5 separate regions of the Homo sapiens genome follow, and regions 1, 3, 4 and 5 are each linked to region 2. The links come from fine-mapping of genetic effects on gene expression. A gene starts in region 2. Each other region holds a variant in brackets. All regions are shown on one strand. Distances are between the middles of the regions.

Evidence for each region. PIP is the estimated chance that this variant, and not a neighbour inherited with it, causes the effect.
Region 1: its variant is fine-mapped to the expression of RAB38 in unexposed skin (GTEx, PIP above 0.99).
Region 3: its variant is fine-mapped to the expression of RAB38 in whole blood (INTERVAL, PIP 0.91).
Region 4: its variant is fine-mapped to the expression of RAB38 in subcutaneous fat (GTEx, PIP 0.95).
Region 5: its variant is fine-mapped to the expression of RAB38 in whole blood (TOPMed, PIP above 0.99).

What each region holds. Positions count from the first base shown.
Region 1 is chr11:88,195,810-88,200,762 of GRCh38, forward strand. No RefSeq gene overlaps it. Among named protein-coding and RNA genes, the nearest start is that of MIR3166, 22 kb to the left of the region's middle. The variant C/A (reference allele first, on the strand shown) is at 2,282.
Region 2 is chr11:88,172,458-88,177,410 of GRCh38, forward strand. It overlaps RAB38 (RAB38, member RAS oncogene family), which reads right to left and starts at 2,986. Exons shown (of 3, transcript NM_022337.3): 1 at 2,726-2,986. The coding sequence starts at 2,927. MIR3166 (microRNA 3166) reads left to right here and starts at 4,045; the gene lies at 4,045-4,136.
Region 3 is chr11:88,318,787-88,323,739 of GRCh38, forward strand. All of the region lies in intron 2 of CTSC (cathepsin C), which reads right to left. Among named protein-coding and RNA genes, the nearest start is that of CTSC, 16 kb to the right of the region's middle. The variant G/C (reference allele first, on the strand shown) is at 2,392.
Region 4 is chr11:88,263,317-88,268,269 of GRCh38, forward strand. No RefSeq gene overlaps it. Among named protein-coding and RNA genes, the nearest start is that of CTSC, 72 kb to the right of the region's middle. RefSeq lists an enhancer at 3,637-3,706. The variant T/C (reference allele first, on the strand shown) is at 2,468.
Region 5 is chr11:88,291,839-88,296,265 of GRCh38, forward strand. It overlaps CTSC (cathepsin C), which reads right to left. Exons shown (of 7, transcript NM_001814.6): 6 at 4,295-4,426; 7 at 1,754-2,670. The coding sequence ends at 2,168. Among named protein-coding and RNA genes, the nearest start is that of CTSC, 44 kb to the right of the region's middle. The variant G/A (reference allele first, on the strand shown) is at 2,414.

The sequences.
Region 1 (4,953 bases), 23 kb after region 2:
TTTGATCCTGGTGGTTGTGATATAAACTTTCCCCTTAATGCTGCTTTGGCTGTGTCCCAGAGATCCTGGTATGTTGTATCTTTGTCCTCATTAGTTTCAAAGAATTTCTTGGTTTCTGCCTTAATATTATTGTTTACCCAAAAGTCATTCAAGAGCAGGTTAATTTCTATGTAATTGTATGGTTTTGAGCCATCTTCTTAGTACTGATTTCTATTTTTATTGCACTGTGGTCTGAGAGTGTGATTAATATGATTTTGAGGTATTTTTTCTATTTGCTGAGAATTGCTTTATGGCTGATTGTGTGGTCAATATTACAGTATGTGCCATGTGCTGATGAGAAGAATATATATTCTATTGCTTTTGGGTGGAGAGGTTTGTTAGGTCCATTTAGTCAAATATTGAGGTCAGGTCCTGAACATCTTTGTTTTCTGCCTCAATGAACTGTCTAATACTGTCAGTGGGCTGTTGAAGTCTACCACTATTATTTTGTGGTTATGTCTCTTCATAGGTATCTAACAACTTGTTTTATGAATCTGGGTGCTCCTGTATTGGGTGCATGCATTTAGAAAAATTAGGTTTTCTTGTTGAATTGAACCTTATACCATTAGGTAATGCCTTTCTTTGTCTTTTTTAATGATTGTTGGTTTGTGTTCTGTTTTGTCTGAAATGGAAGAGCAACACCTGCTTTTTTCTGCTTTCCATTTGCTTGGTAGATTTTTCCTCCATCCCATTAATTTGAGGCTATGGGTATCATTGCATGTGAGATGGGTCTCTTGAAGACAGCAAACAGTTGGGTTTTACATATTTATCCAGCTTTCCACTATGTGTCTTACAATTGGGGCATTTAGCCCATTTACATTCAAAGTTAGTATTGATATGTACAGATTTGATCCTGTTGTTGTGTTGTTAGTTGATTATTATGCAGACTTGATTATGTAGTTGCTTTATAGCATCAAAGATCTATGTACTTAAGTATACTTTTGTGGTGACTAGTAATGGTCTTTCCTTTCCATGTTTAGCAGGCCCTTAAGGATCTCTTGTAAGGCAGGTCAGGTGGCAACAAATTTTCTTAGCATTTGCTTATCTGTAAAGGTTCTTATTTCTGCTTTGCTTATGTTTTTTGTTTGAAAATTTTTTTCCTTAAAAATTCTTAGTATAGGCTTCCAATCTCTTCTAGACTGTAGGGTGTTTGCTGAGGGGTCCATTGTTAGCCTGAGGGGATTCCCTTTGTAGGTGACCTACCTCTTCTCACTAGCTGCCTTTAATTTTTTTTTGCATTTTGATTTTGGAGAATCTGACCACTATTTGTCTTGGGGATGTTCATCTGGTATAGTACCTTGTAGGGGTTCTCTGCATTTCCTGAATTTGAATGATGGCCTCTCTAGTGAGGATTGGGGAAATTTTTATGGTCGATATCCTCTAATATGATTTTTCTGTTGCTTGCTCTCTCTCTCTTTCTCTTCCAGGGACATCAGTGAGTCATAGATGTGTCCCCTTTACATAATCCCATATCTCTCAGAGGTTTTGATCATTATTTTTTATTCTTTTTTCTTTGTATTTGTCAGTATGAGTTAATTTGGAGGACTGGTCTTTGAGATCTGAGAGTCTTTCCTCAGCTTGGTCTATTCTGCTGTTTATACTTGAATTATGAAATTCTTGAAGTCAGTTTTTCAAATCTGCTGGATCAATTTGATTCTTTGTTAAAATGGCCATTTCATGATCCAGCTTCTATATCATTTTATTACATTCCTTAGATTCCTTGGATTAGGTTTTGACTTCCCCCTGAATCTCAATGATCTTTGTTCCTACCCATATTTTGAATTCCTTGTCTGTCATTTCAGACATTTCAGCCTGTTTAAGAAACATTGCTGGGGACTAGTACAGTCATTTGGAGGTAAAAAGACATGATGGCTTTTTGAGTTGCCAAAGTTCTTGAACTGGTTCCTTCTCATCTGTGTGGGCTAATGTTCCTTCAGTTATTGAAGTTGCTGACCCTTGGATGAGGTTGTTTGCTTTTGTCTTCTTAGATGACCTTGGAGATTGAATTGCAGTATAAGATTGGTTCAGTTGACTAGCTTCATTTCTGGAAGATTTTAGGGAGCCAAGTCTCGGCTTGGCATTCCTGAGCTATGTGCTCTAACTCTGGGTGGTAGTACTGGGATGATAGTTTTGTTCTCTGGCCCCTTGATGTTAGGAAACTGCTGCGCTACAGAAACTGAGGTATTTTGGCCTGCTGGCCATAACACGCTGATGTATGGTGCTGGCCAAAGCACTTCATCAG[C/A]GTGGTGGCAGCATGATCTATGCTTTATCTTGTGTGCCAATAGCCATGGCAATGCAGCAGGGTACACATACAGGGCACTGTCAGGAGCAGGGTAGCAATGTTCCTGCATATCCTCACGCTGTTGGTGATGGCAGTGGGGGTAGGGTGTTTGTGGGGAGGGTTTTGCTGGCTAGACTAAATTTTTAAGGCACTAAAATGAATACTGCATTTCAAGATGAATAAAAGCAAATTGAGTCAAGAAAAACCCATTTATTTCCAGTTTATCTGCTATAGTTCTTACTAAAATGAAATAAATCAAACCAGTAGTATTTCAAATCAAGAATGGTCAATTAGATAAATAAACAAGTTTACTGACTTTACTGAATTCTCATGTTCTTCTGCATCTTGTTTAAAATATTTTCTCCTACCATCTTTTTAGTGTTCAACCCTTTGTGCTTATTAGTTTGAATGTCTAAATATTCTTCATGAGTTATACCTGTAAGATATATCTGGAAAGTGGCAATGGACATATTCAAAATTGTGCATTGATGTGCTACTTTTAGAATCAGAAGATACTATCCGTGTAGTAGTTTAGGAAGAGAAGAAAGTACGTATCTCATAAAATGTATTTTTATTTATATTCCTGATTATATTATTCAAAGTGATTAAATTGTTCAATCAATAGTGTATTCAAAAGGCATATAATCTAGGGCATTTGTGCTAAGGAGTACTGTTGAGATTTTAATGCAATTTTGGAGGATGGGAATTTAGTCAATTAGCATGTTTACCTGAAAAAAGAAAATTAGGATGTTGGAAAAGAAAGAAGAAAAACAGAAAAGAGGAAAGGAAGAAGAGAAGGCACAAGAAAGGAGAGGGAAGGTGAGACAGAAGGAAGAAAGAAAGGAAACAGGAAAGGAAGGAATATTCATTATACTCCTACTTTGTGTCAAGCATTTTTACTAGCATTTAACTATCAGCCTGATCCTGAAATATAAGTATTAGCTCCATTTTACAAATGAAATTGAAGATCAGAAAAGGATTGCTTAATTTCATAATTAACATCACCTGTAAGAAATTGAACTGAGGTTTAAACTCAGTAGTATCTGGCTTCAAAGCCTGTGCTTTTCCCATGATATCATACAATAATTCTACACATTGCCTAAAGGTTCTATGAGCTTTTCCCTGTGATTTATTGAAGTAACTTAATCTAGCTTTTTCCTAGTTCATTTCAGATTGCCTGCTACATGGTAGACTTCTAATAAACATTTGTTAACTAAAGGAATGAATGAATGAATGATTCCCAAAAACAGAAGAAAGAAATGGTAAAATGTGCTTCCTTTTGTTCTTAGAAAGGAAATAAAATAAGGAAGACATCAGAAGGTGGGAACTATATTTTGCTCTATTTTGACCCAGGACTGGTTTGAATTTAGTTCAATGGTTAGTGCTTAGAACATTTTGAATTTAGTTGAAGGTCTGAGTTCAGACTTGTTATCATCAAGAAGTGTGATTTAGGCTCAGATGATCTCTAACATGGAAAGAACAAACAAAACAAGAGTCAAGTTTAAACCAGGGACTAATTTGTGGAAATTCTTCTGCTCTAGGAAAGTTCAAAGTGTGGCAGTACATACTGAGGCCTTAGTGGATTATCACAGACCACATTCCTACTACAAGATTTACTCTCAAATAAACATGGATTCCAAGGTCTCTTTCAGACTTGGAGTTAGACTTCCCAAACATTTGTCTCATGTATTTTGAAGCCTCATCTCTTGGACCAAGCTGAATCTCTCAGGATGCAGACCTGATATTTTATCAGGTACTCATTGGCAACTGAACCATCAAACATTCATACTGTGCATCATACAAATAGATAACAGGGAGGCAGCAGGTGGTGTTTGGTTTGTTAGTTGATATTAATGGGAAATTTATTTGGCAATTGCATTAATCATAAGATTTGGCATAGCAAGTAGCAGAGTTCCAACTAAAATCACCTTCAACAATAAAAGGAATGTTAGCAAATATTCAGTCTAGCAATATGGTGAAACATGATCCAGTAGCTCAAAGAAGTCAAGAAAGATCCAGTTTTTTCTGTCTTCCTATTCTATCTTCCATAGTATTGGCTTCTGTGTATAAAATGCATAGCTATACACTAAAATTTTTAGCTCTTTCTCCTGATGACACCACTGGATTGTATGTATTTCCTAGCCTTCCTTATAGGTAAATTTGTGCATGTCTCTAAAGTCTGGCCAGGAGACAGTGGGCAAAATTTTGTTTACTTCCACGTCTAGCCTATGTGTGTTTCTTGATGCTATCTCCTTCCGCAAACTGATGAAGAAAGGCACCACAATCCTAGAAACTGTACGTGGCAAGCCCAGGTTCAAGCCAGTTGCAGGAAAGCCACTGCCAATGATGAATACCTATTTAAACTTTATGTAAAAGGGAAATAAATTGTTATGCTGTTTGAGCCATTACATTACTTTACTGACTTACATTAAAATATTGATACCAGAAGTGGAATGATGCCTCAAGAACAACCTAAACTTTATAGGACTGGTTTAGTTATAGTTGGATTAATAATAGAATATGCTGAAAAAAATAGTGATCTATGTTATACAATAGAAAAATAATTTAATAAAGCAAATGCTTCAGTAATGTAGAAGGTAGACTATGAGCCTGTAACATTAGGAAAAGTGATT
Region 2 (4,953 bases):
TAGCTGAGCCAAGATTCCCTTAATAACAAATGTATATGATATCCTATCAGAACAGTGCAGGTCTTCTCTATCTCATTGAACACCCACAACCTTCTCAAAGCTAGGCCCACTAACCTCCACTACCTGCTCTCTCCGGGGACACACCAGAGTTGAACACTAAGGACGGAGAGATGCATTCTTATCTGTGGACAGACAGGCTGTGATTTGAAAGTACTATAAGGTACACCTGGCTGACTGGAGTCTGGGTGGGCAGTTGAGGTTGTATTTCACATGAACTCATAACCCACATGGCTCCCTATGCAGCTTAAACCATGAAACATGGAGCACGTGCATGTTCCAACCATTTCCTACAGTGGCCTAGCTTTCACCCAATTCACTGTGCCTGCTGTCCAATCTATAATTCAGCTAACAGGGCCTTTGGGCTTAAGGCTGCTAAAGACAGGTTACCACTGAGCATTAGAGCTCTGGGAAAAACAAGCTCCTCTACTGAGATGTTGAATGTAACACCACCGCAGTATCTGTAGAATGAACTTCCCAAGACTTCAGATTTCTTATTTATACAGACTTCTGTGACTACAGCCTCCACTGCAACTTCAGTCTACAAAACATGGCTAACGAAGTGCTTTCGAGCTTGGGAGTTAAATTGCTCCTGAGAGTATGTCAGGAGCAAAGCTGAAAATGGTGATAACTTGGGGACAAAATATATATGTAATATTGGGATCACAATTTATTAGGAATTAATAAGCACTTGTATATCATATCCTTCTTGCCTAGCATTTATATAGGCTTAAAAAAATGGTAGCTAGTGTGATAATAATCCTTGCAGATCTCCTAGAGAACAGGCATGATCACCTTCAGCTAGCACTGTTGGTTGCTCACCTGTCATCTATTGGGAGAAAGCATTCTCCCTGTTTACAAGTAAGGAAACCAAAACAAGGAGGTTAGAGAACTTACCTAAGATTGCCTACTACATGCAGAGTAAAGTAAGGATCCAGATGGAGGCAGTTCAACTCTGGAATTTGGGCTATTAATCACTGTACCCTTCCATCTCTTCTGTTTATGTGAGGAGACTGAAATCTACAGACATAGAACTTCTCTGCTGTCATGCTGTTACCTGGATTGTACACAGAAGTCCAAATTACAGCTACATCCCCGTTTAAACAGTAAGCCGTTTCTAAATCTGAATCCTGAGGACTTTCGAGCAGCCAGAAGGGTTTTCAGACATTATGACATGCAGCAAGAAAGTACACAGAGAGAATTTTTTTAGATGAAAAGCCCCATCCAACAGTGGCTGATAACATTTTCTGTTCTCTGATAACCCCCTTGCTACTAGAGCAGCTGAAGATGACTCCAAATGCATGAATCTGTTCATCTGTTCACATGCTAAAAGAAAAAGGCCTGGCAGTTCATGATTAAAGAGGCACGAAAGTCCCCAGATCACAAATGCCCTTTCAAAAATTTTCCACATTTGTTCTAGTTTCAAGCCATGATAAAGAGTTTCCAATCAAATGCATCAGCTAAAATGAATCCATTTTCTGAAACAGAAGTGGCTAGTTTGGGTCCAGCACTTATAACGAAAGGTTCCTGGTGTCACAGACCATGAAATAAGACTGTTTGAAGTTGTTCCCATGGAGAATCCCAGAGGACTTTAAAACTTCTGAGCAGGAAGATCCTTGACCCTTGCCCAACTCCTTTCCACTTAACAGCGATGCAACTGAGCTGAAGAGACTTGTCCAAAGCCACTGAGCAGGTTAGTTAGTGGCAGGGCTAAAATCTGTAATGAGGGGTTGGTCATGCGCAGGTTGCAAACAGCCTTGTCCAAGGATTCACACTTGGAGTAGATACATTGCACCCTCACTTTTGACTAGGCCTAACTTCTGGTACAAACCTGTGGAGTCAAAATCTGATTTTAAATATTGTAAAAAACAAAAACAAACAACCTCTCATTTTTCAGATCTCTCAATGAAAACTTTAGGGCCAAATCAAGAAATCATAAGGCTATCATAGGCCCTTACATAAAAATGGCCTTAAAATATACACACAACCTCCTTTTCATAGAAGACAGAGAGCCAGAGAGATAGAAATACAGAAAGAGAGGGAGAAAGAATACTTTGCCCCTGACATATACACACAAAAGTACTTGGCTTACTGTAAGCAAAAAGCAAAAAAAAAAAAAAAAAAAAACAAAACAAAAACCCTCAAACTCCTTTGTCTTAAGGGCAGAGAGAAAGGTGACAAAATTTGAAATAAAGTGAGCCACTGAAGACAGGAATGGGCAAACTCCAGCTAGCCTGGAACTATCCCGGTTTCCTCTGTGAACCAGCCTAGGGGCTTCCCCTCGGTCCGCCCCTGCACGGAAGGACGTGCGTGACACTGGGCTGCGTCATTGGCAGAACTGCCCGCGCCCAGAAAACGAGCTGGAGTGGAGAACAGAATGCAATTGCAGACAATCTTCCTCTGGTTCCCTGGGGAGGCCTGCTCTGGGCAGAGAGATCCCAGGGGACTGTGCGGGAAGGAGCTAAAGCAATAGCCCAAAAGCGCCAGGGAATGCACTTGAAGTTTCAGACGTTTTTCTTTTCTTTGAAACTAAGTTTCCAGCCCACCAGGAAAAACTGCCTCGCGACCTAGTGATTTTAATCTCACGCTTGGCCGCAAGCCGCTGCCTCGAGACTGGAAACCGGCCGCGAGGCGCTCTATCCCCCTGACCCCCTCCCCCCGCGCTCACCTGCGATATCCCAGAGCTGCAGGCGCACCACAGTCTCCGGGTCCCAGTGGAGCACCTTGAGCGCGAAGTCCACGCCGATTGTGGCCCGGTAGTGCGAAGAGAAGTTCTGGTGCACGTAGCGCTTGATGATACTGGTCTTCCCCACGCCCAGGTCGCCAATCACCAGCAACTTGTACAGGTGCTCCTTGTGCGGGGCCTGCATCCTGGCGGCCGGCCAGACGTGCCGTGCCTGACCAGGGAAGCGCAGCCTGGGCTCTGCGCACGAGAGAGACTTGGGGAGCGCAAGTGTAGGTGCAGAGAGAGGCGTGGGCGGCGGGGCGGGGGCTGGGGGGCGGAACTCCTCCCCTAGGGGTTAATCCTCCTTCCTACTCCGCGGTCTTGGAGAGGGGAGGAGACAGGAGCGAGTCCCGGGACTGGCAGCTGAAAGGGGTTCGCGTGTGGTTGCCTGTTGCAGCGCTTATTTATCCGGCGCTTTAGAGTTTCCGAAGAGCTGTTTTCACCTGTGACCCTGGCCACAAACTTGTGAGGTGTGGATCTTATTTTCCACGTTTTGCTTGCGAGAAAACTGATTGTGAAAAAGTACTCTGCGGGAGATGGCCGGTGAAAGGCCCCGTTGACCACAGGTCTGAAGTCACAGGCTCTTAACTACCCCACACTGTAGAGAGAAATTACAGTATTAGGAAGCCCAAGACTGGCTGGGCTTGGTTCCTGCGTGCCCTGGTTTTTAAGTTGAGGGACCATAAGTAAGTCATTTGAGCTCTCACAGCCTGTTATTTCTCAATGAATGGCAATGCTGACCTCTGAGCAGCTTGGAGGTGGGAACACTGAGCACTTTCACACCCATTCAACTGGTAATCAGTTAACAAGGAGGACAACTGGGCCGAAAATGCCAAGGGCACTGGTGACTTTTAGCCTCTTCCCATATCCTAAAAACTCAGAGCTGCACAGAAAGACAGTTTTAACAATCGGTCAGATTATTACAAATAATAATAATGGCAAACATTTATTGAGCACTCGCTATATGCCAGAGGGTTTATAAATTATGTCATTTAGTCATCCCAGCTGTCTTAATAATAGATACCATTTTTCTTCCTATTTTACAAATGAGGAAGCTAAGGACCAGACATTTTAAGTAATGGACCCAGAGTCAAATAGTAAGGAAAAAAACCAAATTCAAACATAGGTCTTTAGGTTCCCAACTTCTTTTTGTTGTTTTTGTTGTTTGTTTTCATTCATTTGACCAATATACATTTTATTACCAATTAATATATGACAAATTGTACTTATTTTGTCTTGTCTGTCTCCACCTACAAGAAGGTAAATTTTTTTGAGGCCAGTAGGCATTGTCTGCGTTAGGATTTCTGTATCATCCTCCTAACGCAGACAATGCCTACTGGCCTAAGAAAAATTTACCTTCTTGTGGGTGGAGACAGGACAAGACAAAATAAATACAATTTGTCATATATTAATTGGTAATAAAATAAGGCAGAAAGGGGATGTGAAGAGATTATATGGGGTTTGCCTTTTAGATAGGGTGGCCAGGGAAGGTTTCAGTAAGATGGAGACAATTTAGTAAAGACATAAAGAAAATGAGAAATTGGGCATTCAGGGCTAGGGGGTGAGCAGTTTATACCAAAATGAGCTATTTTGTACCTGAATGTGCTGTGAAGGAGCTCTGCTCACATTCTATCATTTCATCTTCTCAATTGCTTTATGAAGTGGGTTATTTTCTTCAATTTATAAATAAGGAAACCAAGATTAACAGCAGCTTTCTCAAGGGCACACATAACTAGTATGTGTTAGAACTAGGACTTAAACACAGGCCTGTGTGAAAGGGAGAAAGGAGGTTTGGCAAGGCCATTGTCTTTCTGCCTTCCTCTTCTGGCCTGACACTCCCTAAACTTTAGCCTCCACATGCCCCAAACAAGCAGAGGGATGCTGAAGATGTGTACCCGGGACAAGTCACATAACCTCTGAGCCTTGGTTTCCACATCAACGAAAGGAGAATGATAATACCTATGGCAGGGCATGGTTGCTCATGATTGTAATCCAAGCACTTTGGGAGGCTGAGGTGGGTGAATCACTTGAGGTCAGGAGTTCAAGACCAGCCTGGCCAACATGGTGAAACCCGTCTCTACTAAAAATACAAAAATTAGCCGGGCGTGGTGGCAGGTGACTATAATCCCAGCTACTTGAGAGGCTGAGACAGGAGACTATCTTGAACCAGG
Region 3 (4,953 bases), 150 kb after region 2:
TCCCAGCTACTTGGGAGGATGAGGCAGAAGAATCCTTTGAACCTGGGAGGTGGAGATTGCAGTGAGCTGCAACCATGTGCCATTGCACCCCAGCCTTGGCAAAAAGAGGGAAACACCGGCTCAAAAATAAATAAATAAATAAATAAACTAATTAAATTGAAAACTTCCACTATTATTTAATATATGAAACAACATTGGTGTGCCCATCAGATCTAATATCAGATGTTCATCTGTTATGTACAGTGTGCTAGTAAGTCCCTATAAGATAGTTAAGGCACAGCATATTCCCTTTTTCACATCTGCCTGCTTAAACTGACTTGAGCATCTTATCTGAATTAATCAGGCTAACACTCATAAAATGAACAAGTAGTTTAAAATATACTTGCAAAGAAACAAGGATTTGCAAATACTAATGATGCAAACATAAGAAAATGGCAGTTTTTTTATAATTACCCTATTCTGACTTCTGTCAAACATGTTGACAGAAGTTTTTAAAAACAGATGTTTTGAAATGGTTCCATCACTATAATATTTTTTTTAGTCCTAGACATCAATAAAGCAAATGTTTCAGTTAAAATTTGTCTATTAAAATTGTCATCCCTAATACCAATTGATAATTATTCTAAATCCTTCTAAAGCTGTGACACTTTCATACTTTTAACAAAAATGTGTCAAAATCTACTGAAATTCTTTAAGATTTTAAAACACATCAGAAAATTTTGTTTCCAAATGTTGAAAATTTACAGTCATGAAAATTATCAGTAACAGGGACTCTAACATTACTTTTGGCAACAAAATCATAATAATGAAGAATATTTTACATTATTTTCAAATGATATCTTCTTAAAATATATTTTGGGTAGGGCACAATTTTATGACATTAATAAAGTATTTAATCGCTTAATATTTCACATTTTATAACAAATGTAGTACAGTGATACATGTATATATAATTTTCAAAATGTACCTATAGATAATTTAGAATACATAATAAAAAATTTAGACATCCAAGTCTAATCCATCAAGATGATTTGTAATTTTGAAAAGAGTACTTTGCATGGAGTTGAATGATTTGATGATTAACCAAATATGGAAATATTATATTCCAGCAACATTAAAAAACAAAAAATGTTTCCATTTTTGCCCTTTGTTTACTGTAGAAATCTATATACGTACAATTACCTCCATTTGCTGTCAGAAAGGAACCAGGCAAATTTTACTGAATTGGTATTTTGCCAAATCCATCAGAGTGTCACATCTTTCCTCAGAAAGAAACCAACTTCCCTATGTCAGTTCCAAGGAATAGCTATAGTTTTCTGCCTATTAACTGGACTGAACCATGCATTTAAAAAGTCGAATTGTAATAAAATGCAAAACTGCCAGGAAATAGTTACAGTGGTTACAGCCAAGCAACTTCCAGCATTTTACTGAAGGAACTGGAAGTTTACATGTGAAAATGGAGGGTCATAAATCTGTTTATTTCCAGTGCTGAAAGGACATTACATTAAAACCAAAATACACACTCCAGAATTAGCTAAGAAAACAGCAATTTACTGCACAGCAAAGTAGTCAAAGTCCCTGGGCTCATTCCTCACTTACTTACTCATAAACTCAAACCGTAAAGTTGGAAAAAAATCTTAAGAGTTCATCTAATCCACTCCTCAGCTCATGTTCCTCACTATACTCAACAGAGGTGAGGCACACCATGCAGCATTTCAAAGCTTCGGTCCTCCAGGCTTTGGGGAACCCCTGCAGTCAGAACACTCAGGATTTCCCTTGATAGCTAATTTTGTTTTTAGTAGTTTTGAAAGTTAGAACATCACTGTTTTTAACTCTGAGCCCTATCTTGGCCTCTATAGGCTTACACAAGATTAAAACATAAATAAATAAATAGAATAAAATATAAAAGTCTAATCTCTTTTCCACTAAATCATCCAACATATATGGCCTGAGGGCCCACCATAGCCTCTAAGGACACAAAGGTAACACTTCAAAGAACACATCAATAAAACAATACCACATGATATATTACATAACATTCTTTATTTTACAAGTATTTATTGAAGGCTTATTATTGGTCATATATCGTGTAATACATAGGGAATCAAATGGTTAGTAAGATGGAGTTGATCCTTGCCCTAATGAAGTTTAAAGACCAGAGAGGAATACAAACAGGCAATTATGACACAGAATACTAAGCCTTATTATATTCAGGGATCTTCTGACACATGTATCTGCAATTTTGTACTCACTGAATCTTCTCTTCCATAATAAAAGCATGTTGATGCAAAATTACTCAGATAAAAGAACTCATTAGTAATTTTTAAAATTCCATATTAAATATATATACATATATATTTTAAATTTTTTAAGTTCCAGGGTACATGTGTA[G/C]GATGTGCAGGTTTCTTACATAGATAAACATGTGCCATGGTGGTTTCCTGCACCTATCAACTCATCACCTAGGTATTAACCCATTTATGCCAGAGGTTGCAATTTGTTGAATGTGAAAAATCAGACCTTGGCAATGACCTTGAGCAGGATATAAAGAACTTCCACATGCTTAGCATTCCAGAAATGGAACACTAGGCATAAATGGGTTAAGCCCAGAATGCATTAGCTATTTTTTCTAATGCTCTCCCTCAGCTTGACCCCCCACCCCCTGACTGGCCCCAGTGTGTGTTATTCCCCTCCCTGTGCCCATGTGTTCTATTGTTCAGCTCCCACTTATAAGTGAGAACATGTGGTGGTTGGTTTTCTGTTCCTGCATTAGTTTGCTGAGGATAACAGCTTCCAACTCCATCCATGTCCCTGAAAAGGACAGGATCTCATTCCTTTTTATTGCTGCATAGTATTCCATGGTGTTTATGTTCCACATTCTCTTTTTCCAGTCTATCACTGATGAGCATTTGGGTTGATTCCATGTCTTTGCTATTGTGAATAGTGCTGTAATAAACATACATGTGCATGTATCTTTGTAATAGAATGATTTCTATTCCTTTGGGTCTATATGCAGTAATGATATTTCTGGTTCTAAATCCTTGAGGAATCACCACACTGTCTTCCACAGTGGTTGAATTAGTTGACATTCCCACCAACAGTGTAAAAGCGTTCTTATTTCTCTACAACCTCACTAGCATGTTGTTTGACTTTTTAATAATCACCATTGTGACATGAGATGGTATCTCATTGTGATTTTGATATGCACGTCTCTAATGGTCAGTGATGTTGAGCTTTTCTTCATGTTTATTGGCCACATGAATATCTTCTGGGAAGTGTCTGTTCATGTTCTTTGCCAACTTTTTAATGGGGCTCCTTTTTTCTTGTAAATTTGTTAAGTTCCTTGTAGATTCTGGATGTTAGACCTTTGTCATATGGATAGATTGAAAAAATTTTCTCCCATTCTGTTGGTTGCCTGTTCACTCTGACAGTAGTTTCTTTTGCTGTGCAGAGCTCTTTAGTTTAATTAGATCTCATTTGCCAATTTTTGCTTTTGTTGTAATTGCTTTTGGTGTCTTTCTCATAAAATCTTTGCCCATTCCTATGTCCAGAATGATATTGCCTATATTCTATTCCAGGGTTTTATAATTTTGGGTTTTACATTTAAGTCTTTAATCCATCGTAAGTTGATTTTCGTATATGGATTAAGAAACAGGAACAGTTTCAATTTTCTGCATATGGCTAGCCAGATATACAGTAGGATTAATTGAATAGAGAGTCCTTTCCCTATTGCTTCTTTTTGTCAGCTTTGTCAAAAATAAGAGAAGAATCAAACAGACACAATAAAAAATGATAAACAGGATACCACCACTGATCTCACAGAAGTACAAACAACCAACAGCAAATACTACAAACACCTCTATGCAAAGAAACTAGAAAATCTAGAAGAAATGGATAAATTCCTGGATGCATACACACTCCCAAGACTGAATCAGGAAGAAGTTGGATCCCTGAATAGATCAATAACAAGTTATGAAAGTGAGGCAGTAATAAATAGCCTACTAATGAAAAAAAGTCCAGGACCAGATGGATTTACAGTTGAATTCTACCAGAGGTACAAAGAGGAGCTGATACCCTTTCTTCTGAAACTATTCCAAACAATTGAAAAGGAGGGACTCCTCCCTAACTCATTTTATGAGGCCAGCATCATCCTGATACCAAAACCTGGCAGAGATACGACAACAAAAAGAAAACTTCAGTCCAATATCCCTGATGAACTTCGACGCAAAAAATCTCAATGAAATACTGATAAACCAAATCCAGCAGCACATCCAAAAGCTTATCTACCACAGTCAAGTTGGCTTCATCCCCAGGATGCAAGGCCGGTTCAACATATGCAAATCAATAAACGTCATTCATCACATAAACAGAACTAAAGACAAAAACCACATGATTATCTCAATAGACACAGAAAAGGCCTTCGATACAATTCAACATCGCTTCATGTTAAAAACTCTCAATAAACTAGGTATTGAAGGAACGTATCTCAAATAATAAGAGCTTTTTATGAGAAACCCACAGATAATATCATACTGAATGGGCAAAAGCTGGAAGCATTCCCCGTGAAAACTGGCACAAGACAAGGATGCCCTCTCTCACCATTCTTATTCAATATAGTATTGGGAGTTCTGGCCAGGGCAATCAGGCAAGAGAAAGAAATAAAGCGTACTCAAATAGGAAGAGAGGAAGTCAAATTGTCTTTGTTTGAAGATAACATGATCCTATATCTAGAAAACCCCATCATCTCAGCCCAAAAGCTTCTTAAGCTGATAAGCAACTTCGGTAAAGTCTCAGGATACAAAATCAATGTGCAGAAGTCACCAGGATCCCTATACACCAACAAAAGGCAAGCAGAGAGCAAAATCATGAATGAACTCCCATTCCCAATAGCTACAGAGAGAATAAAATATCTAGGAATACAGAAGAAGTGAAGGATCTCTTCAAGGAGAACTACAA
Region 4 (4,953 bases), 91 kb after region 2:
CACTTAAAAAAGTAATGTGGCCACGTTTTCATAGAGCAGCTATTCTGTGCTGGGGGTCTGCTTCAGTCCCTGTCACCTCAAATTCTCCAAAACCCAAAGCTCAGAATGGCTAAGTCACCCAAATAGTGAAGTTGGTGGCCTGTCCCTCCCTCTGGGAGCTCTGTCCTAGTGAGGTTTCAAATCTCCATCAGCCAGACAGCACCAGACAGACTGGCTGGAGACCCCAGTTTGGAGGTCCCGCCCAGTGAGGAGGAACGGGATTGGGGACCTGCTTTTAAAAGCACTCTGACCAGGTTTTTGTAGAGCAGCTACGCTCTGCTGGGTGACTGCTTCCACCTCCAGTTGGCTTGTACTTTCCAAAGCCCAAAGACTGGAAATAACTAAGTTGCCCAAACAGCAAAGATGGCGGCCTGGCTCTACCTCTGGGAGATCCATTTCAGGGAGATTTTAAATCTCTGTCAGCTACTGGGGGTGGCTGGAGATTCCAACTGGAAGGTCCTGACACATGAGAAACAATGGGATAGGTGAACCACTTAAAAAAGCATTCTACTCAAGCCTTTAATCCCAGCACTTTGGGAGGCCGAAGTGGGTGGATCACGAGGTCAGGAGATGGAGACCATCCTGGCTAACACAGTGAAACCCCGTCTCTGCTAAAAATAGAAAAAAATTAGCCAGGCGTGGTGGCAGGTGCCTTAAGTCCCAGCTACTCCGGAGGCTGAGGCAGGAGAATGGCGTGAACCCGTGAGGCAGAGCTTGCAGTGAGCCAAGATGGTGCCACTGCACTCCAGTCTGGGTGACAGAGCCAGAGTCCGTCTCAAAAAAATAAATAAATACATAAATAAAAGCATTCTAGCCCCTTTTTGTAGAGCAGCTGTGCTGTGCTGGGGGATTGCTTCCACCCACAGTTGGCTTGGATTCTCCAAAGCCCAAAGGCTGGAATGGCTAAATTGACAAAACGGCAAAGATAGCAGCTAGCCCCTCTCCCTGGGAGCTCCATATCAGGGAGGTTCGACGCTACTACTGGTGGCTGACAGAAATTCTAAGCCAGTGAGTCTTACCCTGTGAGGTGCCATGGAGTGGAGCCTGCAGACTATTTTGGCTCAGCCCCTTGAATTCAGCGCCTCTCCAAGGGATAGGTAAGGGGGTATAACCTCCTGTTTTGCCAGAGTTGCAGCTACTTTTGCTGGAAAGCCTGGAAAGCCCAGGTATCTAAGGCTCCCGGATATTTGTGTGTTCCTGAGCAGCTTCTCTGCTGACATTCCACGTAGCTCTATGTGACAGACAGAAGATCCTGGCTGAGTGAGTTCACAAGTGGATTTCCTGACCCAAGGGTTGTAATGATCCATAAGGGAAGCATAAATTCCCAGGATCGCACATTCACTCACCACTTCCCTGGGTGCAGGAGGTTCCCTTGGCTCTGTGTCGTTCCTGGATGGGCCATTATCCTGCCTTGCTTTTCTTCACTCTCCATGGACCAAACTGTTTCCTCATTTGGTCTCAAGGTATGTACCTGTATGTTTCAGGTGAACATGCTATGTTTACTCACCCCTTCCATTCCTCTCCATGAGCACCACACACACTAGCTGCTTCTAGTCAGCCATGTTGGCCACCCCTGAGATTACATTTCAACATGAGATTTGGGTGGGGACAAATTTCCAAATTATATCAATAAAATTTAAAAATGTGCTGTAACAGTACTGCTTCTGTGTTTAACTTTAGTTCTGTATTTAAATAATTTCAGTGCTAACATTTTTACTCTAACATGACAGTTTATCTATCAAAAAGTTACAACTAACTTAATAGTTAATAATGAAAGACTGGATGCTTTTCACCAAAATAAGGAAGAAGAGCAAGAATCTTGGGTCTTATCAGTTCTACACAATGTTGTACAGGAGCTTCTAGGCAGGGCACTGTGCAAGAAAAAGAAATAAGAGGCATCAAAACTGGAAAACAAGAAGTAAAACTGTCTTCTGTGCAACATGTACAAAACCTATGAAATCTACAAAAAAAGCTACTAGAAAAAGTGATTTTACCAAGGTTGCAGGATTCAAGGTAAGTATATAAATTATATTCTCATCTACTAGCTATAAATGATTGGAAACTGAAATTTAAAAGATCACATACAATTGTATAAAATAACATTAAATACTTCATAATAAATCTGACAAAACTGGGCAAAATATGTACAATAAAAGTTACAAAATATTGCAGAGAGAAATTAAAGAACATCTAGATAAGTGAAGAGATAAACCATGTTAATGACTAAAATGTGTCTATGTGCAAAATTGTAATTTTTTCAAACAAATAGATAAATTTAATGCCTTTCCAATCCAAATCCCAGAAGAATTTTCTGTATATATTATCTCATTGTTTCTAAAGTGTAAATTCATGTTACAAGAACCAAAACAATTTTTTAAAAGAACAAAGTTGGATAATCAGGGTGATGAGGTGAAGGAAGATGGCCAAA[T/C]AGAACCCTCTAGCGTTCATCCTCCCTGCAGGAACACCACATTGAACAACTATCCATAAAAGAAATCACCATCATAAGAACCAAAAATCAGATAAGCAATCACAGTACCTAGTTTTAACATCATATCAAGGAAAGAGGCACTGAAGAAGGTGGGAAAGGCAATCTTGAATTGCTGACACCACTCCTCCTTCATACACTGGCAGCAGCTGTGTGGCATGAAGAGAGAATCTGTGTGCTCAGAGTAGGGAGAGCAGAATGATTGTGGGACTTAGCACTGGAACTCAGTGTTGCCCTGTTGCAGCAGAAAGAAACATTCAGCCAGCATCCATAGAGAGAGCATTTAGACCAGCATTAGCCAGAGTGGAATTATCCAACACAGCAGTGGAAACCTGAGTTTCAGCAAGACCTACACCAAAAGCCAAAGTGCTCTGGGGTTCTAAGTAAACTTGAAAGGCAAGCTAGACCACAAGGGCTTCAAATCCTGGACAAATCTTTTTGCTATGCTGTACTCAGAGTGAGTGAACTTGGTGTGTATGTAACCTAGCAAGACACCAGTTAGAGCAGCCAAGGGAGTACTTGCATTTCCTCTACCCCAACCACAGACAGAACAGCTCACAGCTCTGGGAGACTCCTTCCTTACCCTTGAGAGGAGAGGAGAGGAGAGAGTGAAGAGGACTTTGTCTTGTAAATTGGATACCAACTCAGCCAGAGTAGAATAAGGCATGAGGTAGAGTTATGAGGCTCCCATTTCAGACCCTAGCTCCCAGACAGTATTTCTAGACATACCCTTGGTCAAAAGGGCACCTGCTTCCATGAAGAGAAGGACCCAGTCCTTCTGGGACCTTCCATGAAGAGAAGGACCCAGGCAGAATTCATTAACTGCTAATGAAAAGAGCCTTTTGTCCTTGAATAAACATCAATATTAGCCAGATATACTCACTGCAGGCCTTGGATGAGACCTGGGGCTGTGCTGACTTTAGGTGTGACCCAGTACATTCCCAGCTGTGGTGGCCATGAGGAGAGAATCCTTTCCTTCTGCTTGAGGAAAGGAGAGGAAAGAGTAAAGGGGACTTTGTTCTTAAGCTTGGATACCACCTCAGCTACAGTCGGGTAGAGTATCAAGTGGCTTCCTGGGGTCACCAATTCCAGGACTTGGCTCCTGGACAGTGTTTCTGGACCCATTCTGGGCCAAAAGAAAGACAACTGTTCTGTAGAGAGGGACTTAGGCCTGGAAGCATTCACAATCTGATGGAAGAGGCCTTGGGTCTTGAGTCAACACTGGCAGTACCCAGGCAGCACCTGCTGCAGGCCTGGGGCAGTGGTGGCCATGGGGAGAAACTCTTTCTGCATGAGGAAGTGAAAGAAAAGAGTGGAAGGACTTTGTCTTGTGGCTTGGCTGTCAGCTTAGCCACAGCACAATAGAGCACCAACTATATTCCTAAGATTCTTGAATCCAGGCCCTGGTGGACAGGGGGATCTCACTATGCTAAGGGAAATGCCACAAGTCTCGCTGGATTTGCCACCAGTTGATTGAAGAGCGCTTGGGCCTTGAGTGAACATTGGCAGTGGCCAGGAAGTTAAGACACCCAGCGCTGTGCTGGCTTTGGGTCTTACCTAGTGCAATTCCAGTGGTGGTGGACACAGGGGTGCTTGTGTCACCCCTCCTCAAGCTCCAGGTAGCTCAGTACAGAGACTCTTTGTTTGGGGGAAACTAAGGGAAAAGAACAAGAGTCTCTGCCTGGTAGTCTAGGGAATTCCTCTGGATTTTACCCAAGATCCAAGTTAATATGTCTATGAACACACAGGAGTCACAGTATTATTGGGCTTCAGGTACTCCCTAATACTACAGCCTTATCTTCAGGTACAGATACAGCTGCAATGACCAAAGATGTAGATCATAACATTCAACTATCTTTGAGTACTTGTAAAGCCTTCCCAATAAGGTTGGGTACAAAGAAGCCCAGACTGAAAAGACTACAATAAGTACCTATCTCTGGCCACGTGCGGTGGCTCATGCCTGTAATCCCAGCTACTCAGGAGGCTAGGGCAAGAGAATTGCTTGAACCCGGGAGGCAGAGGCTGCAGTGAGCCAAGATTGCACCACTGCGCTCCAGCCTGGGCAACAGAGCGAGACTCCATCTCAAAAAAATAAAGAAAAAAAAAATCCAGTAAAATATGGCCTCACTAAATGAACTAAATAAGACACCAGTGACTATTCCCAGAGTAACAGAGACATGTGACGTTTCAGACAGAGAATTCAAAATGGCTGTTTTGAGGAAGATCAACAAAGTTCAAGATAACACAGAGAAGGAATTCAGAATCCTATCAGATAAATTTAGCAAAGAGATTGAAATAATTTTTAAAAATCAAGGAGAAATTCTGGAGCTAAAAAATGCAACTGACATACTAAAGAATGCATCAGTCTTTTAAGAACAGAATTAATCAAGCAGAAGAAAGATTCAGTGAGCTTGAAGACAGGCTATTTG
Region 5 (4,427 bases), 120 kb after region 2:
ATCTGATTTTTTTTTCTAGAGCTCCATTTGTTAAAAGACTCCGAGTATGTGTTCTATTAGCATCAATATAAAAAGTTCTAGATACTGACACCAACTGCTTTTTGTACAGCTTAACAGTCTAATCGCATGGTTTGTGGAACCCTAATGTTCCATTTAGTCACTGTATTTGATGAAATCTGCAACATGGATGATATAAATGATCTTTCTGTCATACAGAAACAGGAAAAGCAGACTTCGACAGTAGATAAATCCAAGTTGAAATGTAGTCTATCTTAAGTTCTTATTCTGGGCAATCCCTCATAATCTCTGAAAACTTAGGGCCTCTTCAAATCATTGCTTGTCCTCAAGCAAACATGTTGTATAATCTGACTTCCATGCCAGTTAGGTTCACACCAGTATTTAGCCATTTAATATTTCCTAAAGTATTTAATGAATGACACCAGCAATGAATTTACTTAAGAGCCAGTCAGGGCCCTCATGAAATAGTGCAAAATCACAGGCACTCTACATCATGATGAGTTGTTCTCATGTGTCAGCCGACTGCTGTCCAACTGGAAAACTAGAGAATAAATTCATGCTTACATGTTAAATAGAATTGTGTTTGTTAAACTGACAGATAGTATCTTCATGAATTTTAGTGAAAAAAAACTTATGCTTGATTTCAAAGGTCTGTTTATATGTTCACATAGCAGTGAGGCTGGGCACAAAATAGGATGGAAATTACATTCAATCAGTAACAATAAAAAGAAAATGTATCTCATCTCCTTGGAGGCCTTCCAATGATTCCGACCCTGGCTATGCCTTCCAGTGCTGTTTCTGTGCCACCATGTGGTGAAAAGATCAAAGGTATGTGGCAGCATGCCAGGAGGTCCAGGAAGCCAAACTTTAAATGGTGCATACTCCTGGAGCCCTACTGCAGTTCAAGGAGGGTAAAAACATCATTATAGTGAATTTTAATGCAGAAAATACGTGGGTTTTGCACAAAACTCTGAAACTCAGAATGTTAAGGTGAAATTTCCAAGCATGCAGCTAGTATCCCTGGTGATTGCAGATACTCTGGTGGGAAATGCTGAGATTCAGTGCTCGAAGGTGCTCAAAGAGAACTCGGTTTCGAAGATCTAAGTTTTAAGCATGACTCCATCACTTGCCAGCTGTGTGACCTTGGACACATCTCTTGCCCTCTAAGTTGAGTCTCTATCTGTGCAAAGAGTTTAAATTACATGATCTTTATGGTCCTTTCCAGCTTGAAAAGGCTGTGGTCCGTGTTTATGTTTCAGAGCTCTGACTGCCTTATTCTCCTGTTACATAATTTCTAAGAGAAGGCATATGTTACTTAGCATAGAGGTTTCATATCCACTGTGAAATATCTCTGGGAGATTCCAAAAATCTATTTAAATCTAAGCTGCTAGTATTTCACTCATTAAGCTATTATTGCTCACCTACTGAAGACTAAGCAATACTCCCAAATACAAGATACACACCATAGAAAATAAATTCACCAATATCCAGATTTTGTCAAAACTCTTATTTCTTTTCTCTGAGGTCTCAGACTCATCAAACATCCAAGGATAATTTTAGGATTCACTAGGCATTATCTGAGTATATCTCCCTGTCATAAAGGTTCATAGTTTTGTTTTTAATTGAAATATCTTCAAATGCTTTTCCTTCTTAAATAAATGCTTACATAGGTAACATAAGTGAATCTTACTGAGTCAGTGATAAAAATTCCCTGAAGTAAACATAAACTCCATAATGCAGTTATTTTTAAAACTTTATTTTAAAAATATGAGCATCTATTTTAAAAGTTTTGATAATTATTGCCATTATTTTCTTGTGATTGGTACAATTTAAAAATAAGTCTATGTTTTCACATTGATTTTAAAAAATATAGCATGTTTGAATTACAAATGATTAAGCAAACTCTATTACTTCATAGCTGACCATCTTCCAGAAAATTCCCACTTAATTGAATACTTAGAAAAAAATGGCCAGTGGCCGATTGAAAGGTATATTAAAATTAAGGGCAGTTTTAATTCTGAAGACAAATATCTTCATGGAAATCTATTTGTAAGCTTCTGAGATTGCTGCTGAAAGTCTACAGTCTGTGAATATACCAATTCCCCTTTACAACTGATGCAGATCATTATGAAATACTGGAAGGCATACCCTACAATTTAGGAATTGGTGTGGCTGCCACTGCTATGCTCTCAATTGCACACTCATCAGTTCCTCTGCGGATCCGGAAGTAGCCATTCTCACCCCAGCCGGTGCCCCAGCTGTTTTTAACAATCCAGTAATCCATCCCAGAGGCTGAGTCAGTGCCATAGCCCACAAGCAGAACAGCATGATTAGTCAGCTCAAAGGGGTTGAAAGGGTCTCTTAGACCAGTGTGGTGGTAGATCCCCTTTTTGTA[G/A]TGGAGGAAGTCATCATATACTTCAAAAGCAACTGCCATGGGCCCATGATGGACCAACTCAAGCTTCATCAGGGCTTCATTGCAGCCTCCATAGAAACCTCCTACATAGTGGTACTCAGAGGAGTAATAACGAAAGCAGTCTTCCTTCATTTTGCATGGAGAATCAGTGCCTGTGTAGGGGAAGCAAGCTTCTTCCACCAGCCCAAAATCTTGGGCGTACTTTCCTGCAATAAGGTATGGGAAGCCGCCTTCACAGCCTGAAGATGAATAACACACATGGTTACCCCTTAGTAGAAAAAGGATTATCCCATTTTCTATTTTTTCTTCTTTGCTCCATTATTCTTTGCATGTTACCCCTGAAAGTTGTTCTTAGCTTAAGCATCACTTCATTCATCCATCCATTTTCCAACTAGCTAACTATCCTTTCATCCTCCTTCTACTTAACAGATATCTACTTAGCACCTAATATGGATGTAGCTATGGCAAAGTGGTTAAGTGGGGAGGCTCTGAAGCCTATATAGGTTTAAAGCCAAAGCCGTGTGAAGAGTTTAACTTCTCTGTATCTCTGCTTACTTACCTGTAAAATCTAGATGGTAGTAGTACTTTCCTCATAGGGTTAAATTAGTTACTTCATGTAAAAATAGCAAAAGTTAGGTATTATGGTCATTGCTAAGCAGCCAGACCCCACAACTTGGCTCTTTCTCAAGCAAGTCTTTTCCCTGACAACCTCTTGCCGAAATGTCTTTCCTACCTTCCTCATGCAGTCCTGGCCCTATTATATATATTATAACTCTGTACTTTTTCTTCACTGTTCTTCACTCTGTTGTTATAATTATTTAATCTCTATCTCTTACTTAACTGTAAGCTTCATGAGGATAAAGATTGTCTTGATATATTATAGCCCCTATAGCCTACAAGTCACAACTAGTAGTACATATTTTAGAAAGAATGAAAGGCTCACTGGCAAATAATCACTCATCAGCAGTTTCACTAGTGAGCTGGGAAATTCCTAGTGGCCAAATCTGGGCTTGAAAGCATAAACTTTAAAATGGTAACGTTTCTCCCTCAATCAATTATAGCTGTGTTTTCGACATACATCACATACAGCCTGATCTGAAAGCCTAAGTACAGATTTTTTTTTTTTCATAACAGGGCCTCACTCCGTTTGCCCAGGCTGGAGTGCAGTGGCATGATATCGGCTCACTGCAGCCTTGACCTCCTGGGCTCAGGTGATTCTTACACCTCCGCCTCCTGAATAGCTGGGACTACAAGCACACACCACCACGCCCAGCTAATTTTTTGTATTTTTAATAGAGAAGGGGTTTCGCCGTGTTGCCCAGGCTGGTCTCAAACTCTAGGACTCAAGAGATTCACCCATCTCAGCCTCCCAAAGTGATAGGGTTATAGGCATAAGCCACTGTGCCCAGCCCTAAGTACAGAATTTTAAAATTCTCCCAGAGAGAAACCAGTGTTAGTATAGTTTTAATAAAAGTTGGGTTTTGGAGACGATGATTAGAAGTGAAACTCCAATGCTAAAAGCTGTGAGACCTTCAAATTATTAGAAAAATTTCTTAGTTCCTGTTCCCCGCCCATAAATAGGGATTATACTTACTACTTCTCAGAGTTTTGAGCATTGTTAGGCAATATATGTAACAAGCAGAGCTCACTCAATATATAGTAACTATTGACATTTTGCTGGATGGTACAGTAAATTCCATGAGCAATCATCCATTAATAAGTGATAGGGCCAGACTTGCACTCAGATTTTCTGACTATAGACACTGCGCTCTCTCTACTGCATCATCCTTTTGCCTTTGCCAACAACAGCCAGCTGCACACAGGTAAATAGCTCATAAATGGTGTCTGAAATGCAACACTTACCTTGAGCATACTGGCTACAAGACACAACCTCCTGAGGGCTTAGGATTGGGGTCTGAGAATTGTTGGTTAGTATACGGATTCTCGCTTCTAGCATACCCATAGAAGCAAATGAGTAGCAGCTGCCACAGGATGC